Linked DNA regions of Homo sapiens. The protein of the gene in region 1 interacts with the protein of each later gene in a pairwise test. Each region holds a gene or a part of one and is shown on either strand. Other genes may lie near its edges.

What was found.
Region 2: the proteins of NDE1 (region 1) and TTC1 interact in a two-hybrid assay, tested with the Homo sapiens proteins (one large-scale study listed by BioGRID).

What each region holds. Positions count from the first base shown.
Region 1 is NC_000016.10:15,653,079-15,656,899, reverse strand, and holds part of NDE1 (nuclear distribution protein nudE homolog 1), read right to left. Parts: intron 1-3,821. UniProt on the Homo sapiens protein: Required for centrosome duplication and formation and function of the mitotic spindle. Essential for the development of the cerebral cortex.
Region 2 is NC_000005.10:160,050,348-160,054,168, forward strand, and holds part of TTC1 (tetratricopeptide repeat protein 1), read left to right. Parts: intron 1-781; coding exon 782-836; intron 837-3,821.

The DNA.
Region 1 (3,821 bases):
CTCATTCACTTATGTCCCAGCCACACTGCCTTCTTTCTCTTCCTTGAACACCCAAGCCTGGCAGGGTGCTGTGGCTCATGCCTGTAATCCTGATACTTTGGGAGGCCACAGCGGGTAGATCACTTGAAGCCAGGAGTTCGAGACCAGCCTGGCCAACATGGTAAAACCCCATCTCTGCTAAAAATACAAAAATTAGCTGGGCATGGTGGCACATGCCTGTAATCCCATCTACTCAGGAGGCTGAAACAGAAGAAACTCTTGAACCCGGGAGGTGGAGGTTCCAGTGAGCAGAGATCCTGCCACTGCACTCCAGCCTGGGTGACAGAGCAAGACTCCATCTCAAAAAAAGAAAAGAGTAATAATAATAATAATAATAATAAAAGAAAAGAGCCTCTTAAAACACTGTTATCTTGGCCAGGAAGGTTTAAAAACTTAATCCTCAGGAAAGAAATGAATCTGAGATGCTTTAGGAGGTGCGTCTATTGTGGGGCAGGTTCTAATTACAACGGGCCAATGGGAGGGATCTGGTTTTGGATTTCAAGGACTGAGGAGAAAATAAGCAGAGAACTGGATTTGTATCACAGCCTGCAAAATCTTTCACTCCAACCAAGAGACAAAAACCACAGGAACAGCATTTCAACCAAAAACTCTTACATTTTAAAAGCAATCCTTAGGGAAGAGAGATGCTGGAAGCAAAGAAGGAAGAAGTAACAGCTGCACTTCACTTTATCATAAAACAGCAATCTTTTTTTTTCTTTTTCTTTATTATTATTATACTTTAAGTTTTAGGGTACATGTGCACAATGTGCAGGTTAGTTACATATGTATACATGTGCCATGCTGGTGTGCTGCACCCACTAACTCGTCATCTAGCATTAGGTATATCTCCCAATGCTATCCCTCCCCCCTCCCCCCACCCCACAACAGTCCCCAGAGTGTGATGTTCCCCTTCCTGTGTCCATGTGTTCTCGTTGTTCAATTCCCACCTATGAGTGAGAATATGCGGTGTTTGGTTTTTTGTTCTTGCAATAGTTTACTGAGAATGATGATTTCCAATTTCATCCATGTCCCTACAAAGGACATGAACTCATCATTTTTTATGGCTGCATAGTATTCCATGGTGTATATGTGCCACGTTTTCTTAATCCAGTCTATCATTGCTGGACATTTGGGTTGGTTCCAAGTCTTTGCTATTGTGAATAATGCCGCAATAAACATACGTGTGCATGTGTCTTTATAGAAGCATGATTTATAGTCCTTTGGGTATATACCCAGTAATGCGATGGCTGGGTCAAATGGTATTTCCAGTTCTAGATCCCTGAGGAATCACCACACTGACTTCTACAATGGTTGAACTAGTTTACAGTCCCACCAACAGTGTAAAAGTGTTCCTATTTCTCCACATCCTTAAAAGTATAAGATTTTTGCCTTTGCCATTCAAAAATGTCAGAGAGAGGCCGGGCACGATGGCTCACGCCTGTAATCCCAGCACTTTGGCAGACTGAGGTGGGCAGATTGCTTGAGCCCAGGAGTTTGAGACCAGCACAAGGTGAACCCCGTCTCTACTAAAAATACACAAATCAGCAGGGCGTCACGATGCACGCCTGTAGTCCCAGCACTTTGGGAGGCTGAGGTGGGTGGATTGCTTGAGCCCAGGGGTTCAAGACCAGCCTGGGCAACATGGTGAAACCCTGTCTCTACTAGAAACACAAAAATTAGCCAGGTGTGGTAGAGCGCACCTATAATTCCAGCTACTTGGGTGGCTGAGGCCCAAGAATTGCTTGAACCCAGAGGCAGAGGTTGCAGTGAGCAGAAATTGTACCACTGCACTCCAGCCTGGGCACAAGAGCAAGACTCTGTCTCAAAAAATAAATAAATAAACAACATGAAAACGTCAGAAAGTTCTATTGCAGTACTCTCTGTGGCAGAAAGCAGGCAACATGACTTGCAAGGGTTCTCTTATTTTATCAGCATTAAGTACTGAATTTGACCTTCTGTTTGCTGTGTGCTAGACATTTCAAAAATTGTTTGCAAACATTATCTTCTTTAAGCTGTGTGACTGTAAGAGATGGCTAAACAGGACAACCACTCTGTTTCTTGGAAGCAGAAACACCGTATGCCTTGGCCATCTCTAAATGTGCATGTGAGCAGCAGAGGCAAACTAGATCCAAGTTCAAGGGATCTTTGCATTCAAGTCCAAGGCTTCCCAGGGGTTGCAAACTGACTGACTGCAGATCAGATTCACTTGTTTCATTTGGTCCAGTTTTGTTTTTTTTTTTTTTGTTTTTTTTTTTTTTGAGTCGGAATCTCTTTCTCTGTTGCCCAGGCTGGAGTGCAGTGGTGTGATCTCAGCTCACTGCAACCTCTGCCTCGCAGCTTCAAGCGATTCTCCTACCTCAGCGTCCCTAGTACCTCGGATTACAGGTGCATGCCACCACGACTGGCTAATTTTTTGTATTTTTAGGAGAGACGGGGTTTCGCCACGTTGGCCAGGCTGGTCTCGATCTCCTGACCTCAGGTGATCTGCCCACCTAGGCCTCCCAAAGTGCTGGGATTACAGGTGTGAGCCATTGCACCCGGCCCTCACATAGTGTTTTAAAAGGCACTGTAATAGGCAAGTGTTAATGCCTGGTCTCAGTATATACAACTTTGCACCTGCTATCTTAAAAATGCACCCCACATGCATTTATTTCATCTGTGTGCCACTAACCTGCGTTCTTAATACGCCACCACACCATCATGCCCCAGCAGCTCTGTAGACAAATCTGATGGGATCATGCAAGGAACAATGACAAACTAGGACCCAGTGGTACAAAAAGTATCTATTTTGCACAACAGAGATCTATGCCTCCTTCAAAAATTTGTTTCCGGCCGGGTGTGGTGGCTCATGCCTGTAATCCCAGCACTTTGGGAGGGTGAGGCAGGCAGATCACCTGAGGTCAGCAGATAAGAGACCAGCCTGGGCAACATGGTGAAACCCCATCTCTACCAAAAACACAAAAAAATTAGCCAGGTGTGGTGATGCACACCTGTGGTCCCAGCTACTCAGGAGGCTGAGGTGGGAGGATCACTTGAGCATGGGAGGCGGTGGTTGCAGTGAGCCGAGATCGCCCCACAGCACTCCAGCCTGTGTGACAGAGCGAGAACCCGTCTCAAAAAAAAAAAATTGTTTCCACATGCTTTTTTTTTTTTTGCATGTTTTACATGATTAAAGCTAACAAAAAAGTCTGAAAATACACTCGAGACACACACCTCTGATTTTAAAACTCTGGAAAAAAGCAAAGCAATCTCTTTCAGCTTTCCTCTGAGAGAAGAAACCCAGCACTGCTAGTCAGGAGCAATAAACATACAGAAACCATCGATAATTACTCAACACCCTTCTCCATCCCCACTCCATATCCTTCCCAATCAAAACAAACAGAAGAGCAGGAGGGAAGAGAAAGAAGCTGCCAAATGTCCACACATGCTCCGACAGCCAGGACGCAGGCTTTGCATTTTGCAGGAGTGACATCACTGGGGCAACATCAGTCAAGAGTCAGCAAGCCTGGCTTCTGTCTTTGTGCTTTCCAAGTTTACAATGATCAACCTACAAAAATACTTAGGCAGGCAAGGACCCATGTTCAAAGATGCACACCATCATTCACGAATGTGGAAAACTGGAAACCTCAATGTCAACAGAGGACTGAATGGAAAACGATGCAGTTGTTAAGAACTGTAAGTACTAATATGGAAGAAAGCTCAGGATATGTTAAAAATGGGTGCCCATTTTTGTTTATTTCCCTCTCTCTGTACACAGAATAGAAAAGGGTCTGGAGGATGCA
Region 2 (3,821 bases), on another chromosome or scaffold:
GAGGCAGGAGAATCGCTTGAACCCAGGAGGTGGAGGTTGCAGTGAGCTGAGATTGCGCCACTGCACTCCAGTCTGGGCGACAGTGTGAGACTCTGTCTTAAAAAAACAAAAAATACAAATGAATTTAAAAAAAAGTTAAAAATACAAATATAGCACTGTAAACATCTGATATGTATCCTTTCAAACTTTTTTCTGTATATATTTATTTGTTAAATTTGTATTGATGCCCTCCTTTAGTGTAGACTTTCTATTAAGAACTGGAAACAGAGCCAAACAAAACTTTTTTTTTTTTTTTTTTTTGAGAAAGGGTCTCTGACTCCCAGGCTGGAGAGCAGTGGCACAGTCATGGCATACTGCACCCTCAACCTCCCAGATTCAAGCAACCCTCCCACCTCAGCCTCCTGAGTAGCTGCGACTACAGACACATGCCAACACACCCAGCTAATTTTTGTATTTCTTGTAGAGACAGCATTTTGCCATGTTGCCCAAGGTGGTCTCAAACTCCTGAGCTCAAGCGATCCTCCCAACTCGGCCTCCAAAAGTGCTGGGAATATGGGCAGGAGTCACTGCACCTGGCCCAAACAGAACTTTTGTCTTTATGTAGCGCACCACAAACATAAATACTTGGGGTTTTTTTTTTTTATTTAATAGGATCATAGACATACTTAACTTGATCTTATTTCCACATTAGGATTCTTGTGTTTCTCAAATTCAAAATAAAGGGAAAGGTTTTGGTTTTTTTTTTTTTTTTACCAACCCTTGTTTCTCCTCTTTTCCTCAGAGATTACCTAAGCAAATTGAAGAACGTAATGAAAGACTAAAAGAAGAGATGTTAGGTAAGCTTACTTCTTACTTTGCTTGATCATAAACAGCTAGGAACCTAGGGTGGGGACATAGCGAATACTAGAGGAGAACACATGAGTTAGAAAGTTTCGGACTCTACCACAAGGCTACTGACTTCTGAGTTATTTTGACCCCAGAAGGGGCAGCGTGGCTTAGAGAGGGTATTGGCTTTTTTTGGAAACCAGATTTCCTTTTTGATTTTCTTGGAAATTTTTCTTGCCTGCAAGAATTTAAGCATAATTCAGTTCCCTGGGATTATGCTTAAATGGGATTTAAAATCCTAGGATACCACCAACCTCGATTTCAGATAACAATTACATAAAAACAGTTTAGTTTCTTCATTGAATAATCATTCCTTGAGGTTCATTAGGATGCAGTCAAGATCATGAGAATTTTTATTTAGAAAATGGCACTCAAAGTCCCTTTAGTGTTTGAGAACACACGAGAGGGCAGGAATTAGGAGTAAAGAGAAATCAGACTGGGGGTAGGGGTAGGGCAAATGGATTCATTTGATCCATGTTTAGTTATTTCTCATATTTGCCAAAGCATTTTAGAGTTGGAACCTCCCACGAGCAATCTGCTTAAGTAAGAGGAGTGAGGGTTCCTGAACACAGACTTAAGTCTTTTCCACATGTAACCTGTCTGATATTTCGCTGGTGAAGATCTGCCATGTATTTTCCTTTTTGAGTATTTTCTAAATCTGTTGTTTGAATTACATTTTATAAACTGCAATCATGTGGCCCTAAAGGAAAAATCATTTAAAATAAATTGAGCCTGTCTGGCATTTATGGCCTTCAGACATCAGCATCCAGACAATGGGAACAAATTTCCCAAAGGATCATTCTGATAGCCAAGTTGATTGAGAGGAGGCCATTAACCTAGACTATCCAGAGACTTTGGCCCCTGCCGGGTAGACTCAGACTGTAAAGACGGCTGCTTCCGATTCAGGATAGCTCTGGAGCCTTCCCCAGATTTTCCAAAAAAGGGAGGGGGATGGGGGAGCTTTTCCCCTAATTTACATATTTAATTAAACTTGGCCAGGCACGGTGGCTCCTGTAATCCCAGCACTTTAGGAGGCCAAGGTAGGAGGATTGCTTGAGCCCAGGAGTTCAAGGCCAGCCTAGGCAACATGGTGAAACCCCATCTCCACAAAAAATTAGTCAGGCATGGTGGCATGTGCCTGCCCATAGTCCCAGCTACATGGGAGGATCACTTGAGCCCAAGGGTTAGAGGCTGCAGTGAGCTATGATGGTGCCACCACACTCCAGACTGGGCAACAGAGCATGACCCTGTCTCAAAGAAGAGGGAAAAGAGCATTTTCTCACCTATTTTTACTAACAATGATGCTCTATTTTAGCAAAAAAAAAAAAAAAAAAAAAAAAAACTGTTTGCATTTAGTATTTGAATTTCTTGCTAAAAAAGATGACCTTGTGAATGGCCATAGTGGATCTGGAAGGCATTGGTCTCTTAGTCCATTTTTTTAAAGCCAGTCCAGTAAAGGGACTGGTGCAAACTGAATCTTACTGCCTATTGTTAGTTCCAGATGGAATTAAAACTTCCATTTGTCCTTGTCTTTATAAATTCTAATGCACCAGAATTTTCTGTCTCCAAGGCTTTGGGTTTTTCTTATGTCATTCTCTTCATTTGAAAAAATTCAAATTGAATTCATTCCCTCGGTTGCTTCTAAAATGAATTCACCTGCCATTAGACTTAACCAACTTAAGTTGCTTTGTAAATAATATGTGTTGTTACACATGTGTAGTTTGAATGGCTAGATTCCTTTTTTCCCTTAATGAGTATAAAAATCATGAATAAGATACTGCTCTAGGTGTTACCCCACAATAGATAACCTAGAAGAGAGAAATCACTCTTTACATGGAATTTCAGCCCCCACAAGAGCTTTTCTGGTATTCCTTCCTCCTTGTTGCTGATGAGGTAACTTTGGTTCATGTTCTGTGAGATTCCCTAGAGGCTAGACATTCTGAATGCAAATTAATATCACTTAGAAGTTCTGAGCAAGCTTTTCACAGTGGACTGCATCATCTTTATGCTAGTTCCTGTTAAAATGATGGCTTCTATGGAGAATAAGCAGTTAAAAATTTTTTAAATTGGGTAGTGTGGGCTGGGTGTGGTGGCTCACACCTGTAATCCCAGCAATTTGGGAGGCTGAGCCCGAGTTCAAGACCAGCCTGGGCAACATGGCAAAATCCTGTCACTAAAAAAATTAGCCAGGTGTGCTGGTGTGCACCTGTAGTCCCAGCTACTTAGGAGGCTGCTGTGGGAGGATCACTTGAGCCCAGGAGATCGAGACTTCAGTGAGCCACAATGATGCCACTGCACTCAAGCCTGGGTGACAGAGTGAGACCTTGTCTTTAAAAAAAAAGAAAATTATAAAATCAGGTAGTGTGATGCCTATGCCTGTAGCTTTTGTTCTTTTTATTCAGGATCACTTTAGCTTTCAGAGTCTTTTGTGGTTCCATACAAATTTTAGGATTTTTCTATTTCTGTGAAGAATGTCATTGGTGTTTTGACAGGGATTACATTGAATCTGTGGATCACCTTGAGTAGTACAAAATGGGTTTTTATTTAGATGTGTTCAGTATTCTTTAACTTGTTTTTTCTTCCATCTCTGTAATTTCCTTTTCATTAGAAAGAAGAGCTATGTACTCCTTGAGGGAAAAAATCCTGATAGGAATTATTAGTGGGTAGAACAATTATTTGCTTTGCCCTTTCTAGCCCATCATTTATAATCTTTAGAACAAGAGACCCAGGGTGGCCATTAGTCCTAGTGGCACAGTCCTTGCTGATCACAGAAGATGATCGTGATAGCATCAAGACGATCACTTGAGGAAAGTGGTCAGCAGCTGGAGTGGGGGTTGGTTGTTTTTGTTTGTTTGTTTGTTTGTTTGGTCCTTTTCTCTGGGATAATTAGCCTCCCAGCCATAATAACCAAGGAATGTAAGGTTTAAAAGGACTTA